Linked DNA regions of Homo sapiens. The protein of the gene in region 2 purifies or fractionates together with the protein of the main gene of each other region. This does not show direct contact. Each region holds a gene or a part of one and is shown on either strand. Other genes may lie near its edges.

Region 1 (7,027 bases), on a different chromosome or scaffold from region 2:
GCCACCATGCCTGGCTAATTTTTTATTTTTATAGAGACAGTGTCTCGCTATGTTGCCCAGGCTGGTCTTGAACTCCTGGCCTCAAGCGATCCTCCTGTCTCGGCCTCTTAAAGTGCTGAGATTACAGGTATGAGCCACTGCATCCAGCTCTGACAGTTTTTGCACCTAAAGATAAAGATTTTGTCTGTGTGCACATGTAATATACGAGGAAAAATTAGGATGATTAGTCATTTTTCCTAGATATTAGACAAGATTTTTCTAGAGGTCGTGTTAGTTCACAACATTTTATTAAACTGTTTTATACTATGTACAGTCATTAAAAGTTGCATAAAATGTGATGTACATGCACATGTGTATATGTAGGTAATGAAATCTTGCTTCTAATCTAGCTTATTTTTAAGGAGAAAGTGGTGTTCTGAAATTGGTTTTGTTATGCAGAACTGTGGTGCAGGGGTTCCTGCACCTGCAGTTATTTATCTCTCATTTCATAACTGTTGTAACTTAAATGTGTGTAATTAACTTCTAATGCAAATGATTAGAATTAGGTTTCTTGATACTCAGAATCCTTGTTAGGTACATTTATACTCTTGAAATGATTTACCCATCTAGAAACATGGTCCAATTTCATTCAGAAAAGTATTTAAAATATGTTATAAAAGTATAGATTACAAAGATAAATCTCAACCTTGTTTGTTACTTTTTTCTTTTACTCACAGTGTGTTATCCAGGATTTTCAAGCTTCGGTACTTCAAGTGTCAGATTCAACTTATGATGAACAGTATGTTTTCTTATTAAAATGTATACTTTATAAATGAGGAAAGGATTTGTTTAAAAAATACTTAATTGAATAATGTTTAAAATATTCTCACTCCCTTTTTTTTTTTTACAAGTTTATAATTCCCTAGTAGTTTATAATTTTGAAGAGAATTATTTTTTGTCTTTTGTGTAATACGGTTTAATATGTTTTCAGAGTGGCTGCACAGATGCCAACTGTTCATTATGAATTCCCCAATGGCTACAATTGTGATTTTGGTGCAGAGCGGCTAAAGATTCCAGAAGGATTATTTGACCCTTCCAATGTAAAGGTATAAAAGCTTATTTCATAATTAGCCTGGCTTTTCCTATATAGGTAAAGAGCTTTTGTGGCTAAAATGTTTTGGATATGCTTTACTGTATGAAGAGCTTCCATGTGACTACTTGTTTTCTTTTGTTGTAGGGGTTATCAGGAAACACAATGTTAGGAGTCAGTCATGTTGTCACCACAAGTGTTGGGATGTGTGATATTGACATCAGACCAGTAAGTGCCAGTCTCCTGTTACGGTTTAAAGGTATCTTTTAGGGGACTGAAATGTCCCCAAATCATTGTTAGGTTGACAGTGATCTAATGGTTGTCAGTGTCATTGACTTTGAGGTTCATTTTATAACAGTATATGTAAAAAGATGAAGTACTAGAAAAGGAAAAATGTGAAACTCTAGAGCTATGGTGTCCAGTTTTGTAGCTACCCGCCACATGTGGCAATTTAAATTTAAAATAGATAAAAACATAAAACTCAATTCTTCAGTTGTAGTAGCCTCATTATAAATGTGGCTAGTGGCTGCATCAGACAGCGCAGATATAGAACATTTGCATCATCACAGAAAGTTATTGTAGACTGCGCTAGAGATTTCCTGAAATGTGGCAAACCAAAATATGTATTGTTGGTGATTTTCTTACAGATAGCACAACTTCTACTTTTATTTTTCAGGAAGGCGTGGTTTAAATTATATGAGTAACTTTTACATGAAGTTTATTTTAAATGCTCTTCATATTTTTTGTGCTTTGTCAGGTTTTAAATACTAACTCCATATTATATACTTCACTCATTATCAGTGATAGGTTCTTGGAGACTGCAACTTTAACTGAAACGATGTACAGTAGGTCCTTGAAGGACATTGTTTCAGGAAAAAAATTGGTTTTGTTACATGACATTTTGCTGAAAGTCAGTTTCCAAGGTCATATTGATGACATTAAATGAGGACTTACTTTATCTTATTTAAACCCAATTCAGCTTATCACCCACATACTGCCTAGATTTTGAGTAAATTAATTTGCTTAAAGCATAGTGCTAATAACTACTATGTTATTCAAAAAAGGCTTTGAGTGGCTATGAAAATCATACTTTATTTTACCTTTATTTCACCTGGTAACCTAGTAGGCATGTGATGTTTCTAGGACAATAGTAGTATAAGTTTGGGATTTTTTTAGCGCAAATACAATTCCACCTTTCGGGGAAGGTAATTGAATTGAAGTATATTTATTGCAACAGTGATAACTGTTTTTAGTGAAGTTTCTCCTTTTAACTAATGAGATACTTTTGCATTCCATTTTCTACTTCAAAATTTAGATGATTTAGACATTTGAAGTATGTTTTAAAAATAGGAACTTACCCACTAAAACAGTTTGACATTTAACTTTCTGATGCATACATGCAAATTCAAAGTAAATACACTGCTTATAAGTAGTAATTTATTTTTATTTGGGAAGGGCTTAGCATATGTGTTTTGGAAAAGCTCCCATGTGCTTCTGATGCTTACCTCTGCAAAAGAGAAAAGTAGCAATAATTTTGGCGAGGAATATGTTCAGAGTTTATCATTGTCTGTCATAATCATAAAATAATTGTCTAATTTTGAATATCCTAACTTACAGATAAGCATTCTTTTTCAAAATATTTGTAATTTTAATTTTTGGCTGGTGGTTGCAATTAATATTTCCAGATGAGCATTCTTTGAATATCCTAACTTACAGATAAGCATTCTTTTTCAAAATATTTGTAATTTTAATTTTTGGCTGGTGGTTGCTATTAATATTTCCAGATGAGCATTCTAAGATAAAGTCATTATAAAATGTACTTCTAATTAAATATTGGCAGCTATCTGCCAAAAAAAAATTATGATTTTTAGAATGATTCCTTTAAGTTAGTGGTTCTTAAAACTTTGTACACATTAAAATAATCTTGGGAGTTAAAAACCATGCCTGCCAGGTACAGTGGCATGTAGTCCCAGCTACTTGGGAGCCTGAGGCAGGATTGTTTGAACCCAGGAGTTTGAGGCTGTGGTACGCTATGCCTGTGCCCGTGAATAGCCACTGCATTCCAATGTAGGCAATATAACGAGACCCCGTCTCTAAAAGTAACCTTGCCTGGATCCCATCCCCAGACATTTTTATTTAATTGCCCCTAGGAATTTGTGTTTTAAAAGCTCCTTAGATGAGTTGAATGTACAGCCAGGATGGAGAATTGATGGATTAAGCTATTAGTTCTATATAATAGTAAAACATTTCCAAAAAACGAAAGGGAAATTGTAGTAGAGCACATGGTTATATTTGTAGTTGTATTTAAAACTTTTGGAAACATATGGAACTAATTGATTTTTCTTGTATTTTTATCCTAGGGTCTCTATGGCAGTGTAATAGTGGCAGGAGGAAACACACTAATACAGAGTTTTACTGACAGGTTGAATAGAGAGCTGTCTCAGAAAACTCCTCCAGTAAGTTCTGTTTGTTCTTTAATGGTATTCTTCAGTCATATATTTCCTCACTGATGGTGTAATTTTGTAGATAAGCGTCCATTTTTCAATAGATACATGATATTTTGTGTGTGCCTGGTATAGTATCACTAAAGTTAATATCCTTTAATCGTTTTCCTAGTTGACATCTATTAGTTTCTCTTAAATTATTTGAATCTCATTTATTAATATTTAAATATGTATAGTCTGCTAGGCACTAGTCCCTGCACACCAAGGGCTCAGTCTACTAGGATGGTTAGACATGCAGAAAATGATGACTGTAACATGCTCAACAATTCAGTATGTCATGAACGAGGTGCTGTTGGGAACACCAAGAAGCCACTACTTAACTCTCTAGGAGTATCAGAGGATAGCCTCCTGAAGAAGCTATAGTTTGAATGAATAGTTCAACTCATTGCTAATTTATGAAAGGATATCTAGATGGAGGGAATAAAACCATTTACAAAAATACTAAGAGAAGACAGGTATGTTCCAGTAATTCAAAGTAGTTGGCTTCTAGTCTTTACGTAAGTGGGGAAAGCAATATGGCTAGAAAGATGGATTAGTTTCCTAGAGCTGCCGTAACAAAGTACATGTTAGTGGCTTCAAACAACAGAAATTTGTTGTCTTATAGTTCTTGAGGCTAGAAGCCTCAAGGTGTCAGTGGAGCTATGCTGAATCTCTAGGGGAAAATACCTCCTTCTTCACAGGATAAAATCTAGCAGTGGACTGATGAGCTCATGTTTGTTTTAAAAAGATCAGTGGGTATATTATAATAACTTTTAAAAGAATAGAAAAACTCGGTTTGAGAAGGTAATTTATATAGTACTTCGGTAACAGAATGACAGTTATAATCTTTTAACTTTAAAATTTCTATCAGCTGGGCGTGGTGGCTCACGCCTATAATCCCAGCACTTTGGGAGGCCGAGGCAGATGGATTATGAGGTCAGGGAGACCAGCCTGGCCAACATGGTGAAACCCCATCTCTACTAAGAATACAAAAATTAGCTGGGCCTGGTGGCGGGAGCCTCTTAATTCCAGCTACTCGGGAGGCTGAGGCAGGAGAATTGCTTGAACCCGGGAGGTGGAGGTTGCAGTGAACTGAGATCACACCACTGCATTCCAACAGAGCAAGACTCCATCTCAAAAAAAAAAAAAAATAACAAAAATTAGCCGGACACGGTGGCACGTGCCTGTAATCCCAGCTACTTGGGAGGCTGAGACAGCAGAATCGCTTGAACCCAGGAGGCGGAGGTTGCAGTAAGCCGAGATCATGCCACTGCATTCCAGTCTGGGTGACAAAGCAAGACTCTGGCTCAGGAAAAAAAAACAACAACAACAAAACTTCAAGTGCTTTTTTTGTAAGGTGTTCTGCACTGAAGATTACATTTAAAAAACCTTATTAGTGGTTACATATGCCCTAACAATATCTATAAATCTGTATATTTAATAGTCTTTTAGCTTCCCATATAAAATAATGTTTTACGTGTGCCACATTTCTATTATTAAAAGTGATATCTAAATATATAGGCACACAGTTGACATCTGCCTTGTATTTTCTAAATTCTTGGAGATCTAGAGCATACCTGAATTATAATACTAATCATTAGATTGATTGATTGATTGGAGATTTATTTATTTATTTATTTACTTGAGATGGAGTCTTGCTCTTGTCCCCTAGGCTGGAGTGCAGTGGCACGATATCAGCTCACTGTAACCTCCGCCTCCTGGGTTCAAGTGATTCTCCTACCTCAGCTTCCCAAGTAGCTGGGATTACAGGCATGTTCCACCACACCCGGCTAATTTTTTATTTTTAGTAGAGATGCAGTTTCTCCGTGCTGGTCAGGCTGATCTCAAACTCCCGACCTCAGGTGATCCACCCGCCTCGGCCTCCCAAAGTGCTGGGATTATAGGCGTGAGCCACTGCACCGGTCTATAATACTAATGATTAGATTTCATAGAAAGTCCCTGAATAATGAATACAGATAAGCATGGCCCAAGCTGTGGTCAAGGCCAGTTAGAAACTATCCTTGTCCTTTAGGAGGTGATAACAATCTCTGAAAGAACAGGAAAAAAATTCTATTTAATAGTTACCAATCTTTCTTACCTACAAAAACCCATGTTTACCCTATCCCCAGTACCTTCTACCCACCCATATCCCATACTCTACCCACCCTTGCTGCACACATACTTATTTCACTTTGAAAAGCCCCAAAAATATGTTCATTTATAGAATAATAGGAAGATGTCAACAACTTGAGAACTGTCCCCAGAGGCAGATTCCTTGGTAAGAGAAAGAAAAAAACCTCTTCATATAGGAAGTGAGATATAGGGGATAGTACTGTGCAATAAAATTGTGTTATCAAGAGAAAATGAGAGTCAGAACAGAAGCACTAATTTGGAAGGAAATAGTATGAATAAAAAACTAACCTGATATCTGATGGTTGTGTTTTTATTTAGAAGGGTTGGGGTGAACTAAGGAGGGATTAGGATAGCATGAAAGCCTAGAAAGGAAGCAGTTAGAAGGTTGGGGAGGACTACAGAAAGGGAGACAGATTGGGATGATAATTAGGTTGGTGTTGGATGAAATGAAATAATAAAGACTTAGCACAGCACCAGATTTATAGTGTTAGGTGTGGATTTGCTATTTTAGGATAGAAATTGTGAATGCTATACTTCAGTATGCAGCTTTTTAAAGTTTGTATGTTTTCTCATCATATAATCGCATGTTAAAAGCCATAATCAAAGTACTTTTAAAAGTCTGTACATTAGTCTAACCTATGCTTGTTATCTTGGCTATTTCAAAATTACCGTATTTTAATCAGTGTTTGAACCACAGGGAGCCATTATGAAGTCTGTCAAAATTGAATTTCCTGGCTGGGTGCAAGTGGCTCATGCATGTAATCCCAGCACTTTGGGAGGCTGAGATGGGCCGATTGCTTGAGTGCAAATGTGAAGACCAGCCTGGACAATATGGCGAGGAAGACCCTGTCTCTATTTGAAAAAAAAAAAAAAAAAAAGAATTTTCTAAGTTGAGTCACAAGATTTGATTGTACTAATGCATATTCTTCTATTTCAGAGTATGCGGTTGAAATTGATTGCAAATAATACAACAGTGGAACGGAGGTTTAGCTCATGGATTGGCGGCTCCATTCTAGCCTCTTTGGTTAGTAGATGAGCTACTTTGCAAAAATATTCTTACTGAATTATACTAAATTTAGTAAAAATACAAAAAATAATTCCAGTGCTTCATTTGTCTGTGCATTTTATAACTGTCAAATGAGTGGAAGACCTAATGGAATAACCAGTTTTATGTGTTCTGATGTAACAAAATGCCTCTGCCTAATTAGTGGACATTTGTCAGCCTAATTTCAATGTCCCCTCTCAAACAGAGGTGGAAATATGTTAATGTATGCATGCCTTTTCTAATAATACCCCCATTGGCACTGGTCAGGGCTTGTCTGGAGTGCATTTAAAATGAAAA
Region 2 (7,027 bases):
AAACTCCAGACCTTGTGATCTGCCCACTTAGGCCTTCCTAAAGTGCTGGGATTAAAGGCGTGAGCCACCACACCCGGCCTCTTACATCTTTATTTTGTGGAACTAAAGAATGAATTACATAAACATGAGCATCTTAAATTGTGTTTATTTGTCACCTTAAAGCATCAAGTACGCAATGGCTCCTAAGTAACTTTAAAGCAAGTAAACCCACTTCAAGTAATTAAAGGAAAATGTCTCTTGGTTAGAAGACGACTATGCTTCTCAAATGATTAAAAAAAACGTCTTAAGAGATCATTCTGGGATGAGACCAAGTCCACTCTCCAAAGGTTAGTACACTATAATTTCTTCTAATATTCATGGCAGTTCCAAACAGTGTGACAGCCCTACTGACTTCACAACTCATAACCCAGGTCTCCTTAATTCTCATTCCCAAACCAACTTTCCAACCTATTCATTCATTTTCAAGGACCTAAAATCTAGAAAAGTGTTAAACTTATTTTCCAGGGCTTAGAGTGTACTATGAAAACCATTAACAAAACTATACTTATATCCCTAAATCTGTAAAAATTTAATAAACAATAATTTTTAAACCATTACCACAATAAAAAGCAAACAAGCTGCATTTTTTTTTTTTTTTTTAAAGACAGGGTCTTGCTCTGTCACTTAGGATGGACTGCAGTGACGTGATCACAGCTCACTGTAGCCTTGGACTCCTGGGCTGAAGAGATCTCCTGCCTCAACCTCCCAAGTAGCTAGGACTACAGGCATGTGCCACCACGCCCAGCTAATTTTTTGTAGAGACAGTCTTACTATATTGCCCAGGCTGGTCTTGAACTCCTGGCTTCAAGCAATCTTCCTGCCTTGGCCTCTCAAAGCACTGGGATTACAAGCATGAGCCACCGCAACCAGCCTGAACTCATGTCATTGTGATGTAGACAGACATGTCTGATTTATAAACACAATTTCTATTTGACACAACTGGAATTATATCACTCATACTTCTATTAAAGGGTATTGAGGTATACTAATTTTCATTATACAATGTTGATTGTTTCACGTATGCTAACGTTTATTACTTTCAGAAATTTTTTAAAATTAACAAAAGCAATGTTTCAGTACTTGACCCACTCTCCAGCACACAGTAAATGTTCAATAAAGGTTACTATTGTAACTGTACTACTACAAAGGACACAAAGCATTCAACTACTTACTAAGCAATAAAAACAAATGTACGAACTAGATAAATGTAAGTAGACTTAAGACTTTTTAAAGCTCTAGTTTGTTCAGATTTTAACAACGGTCTTACAGGTTTGTGAGAAAAAAATATACATATCTTTTTTTTTTTTTGAGACAGGGTCTCACTGTGTCGCCAAGGCTGGAGCGCAGTGGCACGATCTCCGCTGACTGCAACCTCTGCCTCCCAGGCTCAAGCGATTCTCTTCCCTCAGCCTCCCCCCAAGTGGCTAGGATCACAGGCGCTTGCCACCACACCTGGCCAATTTTTTTTTTTTGTAGGGATGTGGGTTCGCAATGTTGCCAAAGTTGGTCTGAAACTCCTGAGCTCAAGCGATCTGGCTGCCTCGGCCTCCCAAAGTGCTGGGATTACAGGCACAAGCCACTGCACCTGGCCAAAAATCTACCTTTAAAACAGTGACACAATGAAAGAAATCTATACCTACGGCAAATGTGGTATATAACTTGGTATCGTAAATGTAATGTATCTATGTATCTAAATTAAAGGTATCCAAGAGAATAGATTTCAGAATAACTGCTGAAATTCTAAACTCCTTAAAGGTAGTTGCATATAGTAACAAATAACAAATTCAAGAGTGACTATTGTGTTTGTTAGAAAACAATACCTTTTTTCCATACCTGTGACAAGAGCTAGGCGTTCCACACCTGCAAAATCTGCATGCTCAATAGCCATGACACCAGCAGCACCAAAGAGCTGTTCAGGATAATTATAAATTAATTGCCTGTAAATAAAATACATGAAAACATTATGCTCACAACTGTTACAAGATAAACTACATTAGACTAAAAAACATGTAAACATTTTTACCACAAGTAAAAGAAATGCAAATTAGAACAAGATTGCATTTCTTACCTATATAATTAGAGTTTATCAACTATAGTACTAATGCATCCATTACTAGTATTGAAAAGAAGTGTTCTTTATTATAGTAACTGTATAAATCAATCCCGTAATTCTGGTCACTGTAAGTGTGCATAAATCACAATTTACTGATTACAAAAATCCATAATTTAAGTGAAGTTATCTAAGACAGTTCCTAGGTAAAAAATCTAATTCAATATAAGTAAATATGAAGTATTCCATAAACTTTCATGGAAAAAAATCCTTTCTTAAAAGCAAACACAGACCTGTTAATAAAGCAATTTATTCCATGCTTAAGAATACGTTCAACTTTCTCCTTCATTTTTTCCTTTTCCGCATGTTCTATTTCTGCAACCTTTGCTGTAGAGTCAACTCTTACCCGGGAACCAAATATCTAAGACAAACGAAGCATAAAGAGAGCATCAGTTTCATTATTTTTTTTGAGATTGAGTCTCGCTCTGTTGCCCAGGCTGGAGTGCAGTGGGGCAATCTCGGCTCACTGCAACCTCCACCCGCTGGGTTCAAGTGATTCTCCTGCCTCAGCCTTCCAAGCAGCTGGGATTACAGGTGTGCGCCACCACACCCAGCTAATTTTTGTATTTTTAGTAAAGACAGGGTTTCACCATCTCACATTGGTCAGTCTGGCCTTGAACTCCTGACCTTGTGATCCGCCCGCCTGGCCTCCCAAAGTACTGGGATTACAGGCGTGAACCACCACGCCAGGCCTCATTACTCTTTTTAAAGAGTCCCATAGCATATTTCAACATTTTTACCAACGTATATATATGTGTATATACACAATAGATTCATACCTATTCCAAGCTTTTTAGTGCAATTGATTCCTGAGTTTATAGAATCCAGCAATTTTTTTTTTTTTGAGACTTTTGAGACGGAGTTTCACTCTTGTTGCCCAGGCTCGAGTGCAGTAGCACAATCTCGGCTCAGTGCAACCTCCGCCTCCTGGGTTCAAGTGATTCTCCTGCCTCAGCCTCCCGAATAGCTGGGATTACAGGCATGCGCCACCATGCCCAGCTAATTTTGTATTTTTTTTTTTTTAGTAGAGACAGGGTTTCTCCATGTTGGTCAGGCTGGTCTCAAACTTCTGATCTCAGATGATCCACCACCTTGGCCTCCCAAATTGCTAGGATTACAGGCATGAGCCACTCTGCCTGGGCAGTAATTTTAATTTTTAAAAAGTAGAGTTACATACCTTTATTTTGTCTGTATCCATACCAGTATTTGCAATAAGAATTTTAGCATTTTCAATTCGTTTTGGTTGATTTACTCCAATTTTTTTATCCAACAGGAAGCCTACAATAAATATAAGAACAGTATCATATTTAATACTTCAAAGCAGCCTTAGTAAATCTTATAAAAAGCTGTCTGCTTTATCATATCACTGTTTCAAAGAAGCTATTTAAGTCCAATTTACCAAGCTCTTAGAAGGCATAAAAGCAAGCTTGTCCAACCTGCCTTATTCTGTTGTTGTTTTGCTTTTAGGCTTTTAGCGCCTGAAAGCCATGGATTTTAGTTTCTGTCTCTAGTGATAAGCAGAAAAGAGGGAGGAGGAAGGGGCTTTACCGACCCAACCAGAAACAGAAACTAGGAACCCATGACTGTATTCTCTTCCTTGGACACTTCTGGTATAAAGCATCCCACTAGAAGAGTTATTACAAAATCAATTTAATGGGTTACTTAAAAAATATGAAACAGAAAATATAAGAGCACAGTACAGACAATAAAATTAAACAGTATTTTGAAACTTTTGTTTCAGATATACGCTACACCCACATCTGTATGGGTTGCAATATAAAGACAATAGGTTAAGTCCTATATTTTTATTAGCTTAAAATCACCACCACAAGAGAAAAATTGAAGATTCAGGTATTGAGGCTGGTGGTAAAAATGGAAAAACCATGGACACCGTGGAGTCAGATAAATCTGACCCTGATCATGCCCCTGCTGCTGGCTATATAACCTTCGACAAATTATCCAACCAGAAATGCTAATTTGTAAAACAGGAATGTAACCAGTAGCAGAGGTGCTAGTTACCAGCCTAGTCCTGCTGCTTTGGAACCATCATACAAACCCAGTACCACCTACCTTTCTAGGCCTTTTTTTGGTTACATTAGAAACTTTTCCATTATGAAGCCACCATTATCTTGGGTTTTCTACTCTATTCAAGTGAACCTAATCCTCACTCACCAGGTCATGATGACTAAATGACTAAAGTTCCTATTACAATTCCTAGTACAGAGCAGACATTCAAGAATGGTGCTGCTTGTGCTACTAATATTCTTGTTTTAATGCTCCTTCCCTACCACCAGCCCCTATCAGAAATGCTACGCAGCGGCCAGGCATGGTGGCTCACGCCTGTAATCCCAGTACTTTGGGAGGCTGAGGCAGGTGGATCCCCTTAGGTCAGGAGTTCGAGACCAGCCTGGTCAACATGGCGATACCCCGTCTCTACTAAAAATACAAAAAAGTTAGCCAGGCATGGTGGCACACGCCTGTAATCCCACCTACTCAGGAGGCTGAGGCAGGAGAATCGCCTTAACTCAGGAGGCAGTGGTTGCAGTGAGGCGAGATCATACTGCTGCACTCCAGCCTGGGTGACACAGCCAGACTCCGTCTCAAAAAAAAAAAAAAAGAAATGCTACACAGCTCTTGTATATAAACTTAATCAAGAGTATTTTCAGAATTATGACTCTCTCTTAAAATAAATCAAGACCTATGACACAGAACAAAACCAGGACTCCAAACCACTGGTAAAAACAGAAGTTGTAAAGCACCATCTAATTCTTTTTTTTTCCTTCTCTATATAAGAATGCCTATACTTTTTGACAGGCCATTTTGTGAAGTAAATATAATGTGAAGATGATCTGGAAAACTTCACTCTAAACAAAAATGTACTACTAAGAAAGCAGTACTTATTATGTCTCATTTATCACTCTTTAAGAACTAGATCCTCTTGCCCTATAAACATACATAATTATTTGTTAAAGAAATTTTTTTTAATTCTTTTCTAAAAAAAACTAGTCATCCCCCAGTATACGAAGGGGACTGGTTCCAAGACGCCCACATACACCAAAATCCCCACATACTTAAGTTCCAGGCTGACTGGAACCAGCAGATTTGAAAAGCTGGCCCACTATATACATGGGTTTCAAATCCTGCAAATACTGCATTTTCCATCCACGTTCGGTTGCACATGTGCAAACCACGGACACAAAGGGCTGACTATATTTATTGAAAAAACCTGCATTGTGAACCTACATAATTCAAACCCATGTTGTTCAATGGTCAACTGTACATCCTCAACAACCAGCTAACACAATGATTTGACTGACCCAGACCCTTCCTGGAGAATACATATAATCCTGGTAAAAGTACCATTTGAGAATAGATGATTTCTAGTAAAAGAAAACATTTCCTCTTTATCAGAGACTGCAAATAACTTCATGGTAGTTAAGTAAACTCTAGAGATCATCAACAATGCTGGAATAGCGCGGGAAGAGGAGTACACTGTCAATAAAATGACAAAAATGGTTGCACATATGATATGTCCTTAAATTCAAGTTCACTGGCTTTGTAAAGGGTCACTGGTCTCAAAACAGAATTCACTCAGTATTCAGCCCTCAGCATCTAATCAAAGCTTCTTGTATCTGACATTCATACATACCTTCATCTAAATAGGAATCTGCCAAACTTCCTCCTAGCTTCTTGATAATATGAATTGCCTCCAGGTTGCCAGAGCCTTTCAGTCTGAGAACTGCTTCTACAGCTAACTTTGTAAAGTGGTCTTTGTGATGAGTAAGAAGTTTTGAGGATAATGTTGTGCCCGCAATATTCATTAAATCTTGACGGAATTTAACTTCATCGGAACTAAATAAAACCAACCAAATATACATATTAACCCTACTTTACTTTTCAAAATTTATCTAGATATTCATGTCAATAGATAATTTTACCCTAACTGATCAAGTCTGTAAGCTATATGAAAAGAATTAAACCTCAGCAGTAATCAAGAAACACAAATTAAAGATGTTATTTTCCCCACCAAACTGGCAAAATGCCAAAAAAAAAAGAGGGGTGGGGGCCACACAAGCATGCAAAAGTCTAATGTTGGCAAGAATGTGAGAAATGGCCGGGCACAGTGGCTCACGCCTGTAATCCTAGCACTTTGGGAGACTGAGGAGGATGGATCACTTGAGGTCAGTTCAAGACCAGCCTGAGCAACATGGTGAAACCCCATCTACACTAAAAATACAAAATTAGCTGGCTATGATGGCACATGCCTGTAGTCCCTGCTACTTGGGAGGCTGAGGCAAGAGAATCGCTTGAACCCGGGAGGCAGAGGTTGCAGTCAGCCGAAGTCGTGCCACTGCACTCCATTCTGGGCAACTCTAAGAGCGAGACTCCGTCTCAAAATAAATAAATAAATAAAAGGACGTGAAAAACAAGTATTATTATACAGTTGTGAATGGGCAAATAAATAGAAGTGCCTTAAAACAGTGGTCCCGGACCTTTTTGGCACCAGGGACTGGTTTCATGGGAAGACAATTTTTCCACCTGCTGCTCACCTGCTGTGCAGCCCAGGTTTGGGGGTGCCTTAAAACACACACACTTACCTTTGGACCCAACAATTACACTTCTAGAAACCTTTGGGCTATGTCGCAACGTCACAAAGTTATTTTATAATGCTAAAAATCATCAAATACACAAATCTCCCCCTACAGATAGGTTAATACAGTCATTCTAGCCAAATATTCAAATGTGTAACTCTATTAAAATACTGCACAGAAAATTGACATCCAAAAATGTGCTTAATATTTAACTAGGTTAAAAAGAGGCTAACAAATTCTCTATACAGTATTATACTATTTGCTTTATTTGTATATTTTGATGATA

The links. The genes of interacting proteins can lie anywhere in the genome.
Region 1: the proteins of CCT2 (region 2) and ACTL6A purify together in Homo sapiens (affinity purification with mass spectrometry; 4 studies listed by BioGRID and IntAct, with this or other methods). This does not show direct contact.

What each region holds. Positions count from the first base shown.
Region 1 is NC_000003.12:179,579,924-179,586,950, forward strand, and holds part of ACTL6A (actin-like protein 6A), read left to right. Parts: intron 1-716; coding exon 717-778; intron 779-970; coding exon 971-1,085; intron 1,086-1,216; coding exon 1,217-1,297; intron 1,298-3,429; coding exon 3,430-3,525; intron 3,526-6,622; coding exon 6,623-6,709; intron 6,710-7,027.
Region 2 is NC_000012.12:69,588,459-69,595,485, reverse strand, and holds part of CCT2 (T-complex protein 1 subunit beta), read right to left. Parts: intron 6,002-7,027; coding exon 5,799-6,001; intron 3,428-5,798; coding exon 3,327-3,427; intron 2,511-3,326; coding exon 2,383-2,510; intron 1,977-2,382; coding exon 1,873-1,976; intron 1-1,872. UniProt on the Homo sapiens protein: Component of the chaperonin-containing T-complex (TRiC), a molecular chaperone complex that assists the folding of actin, tubulin and other proteins upon ATP hydrolysis.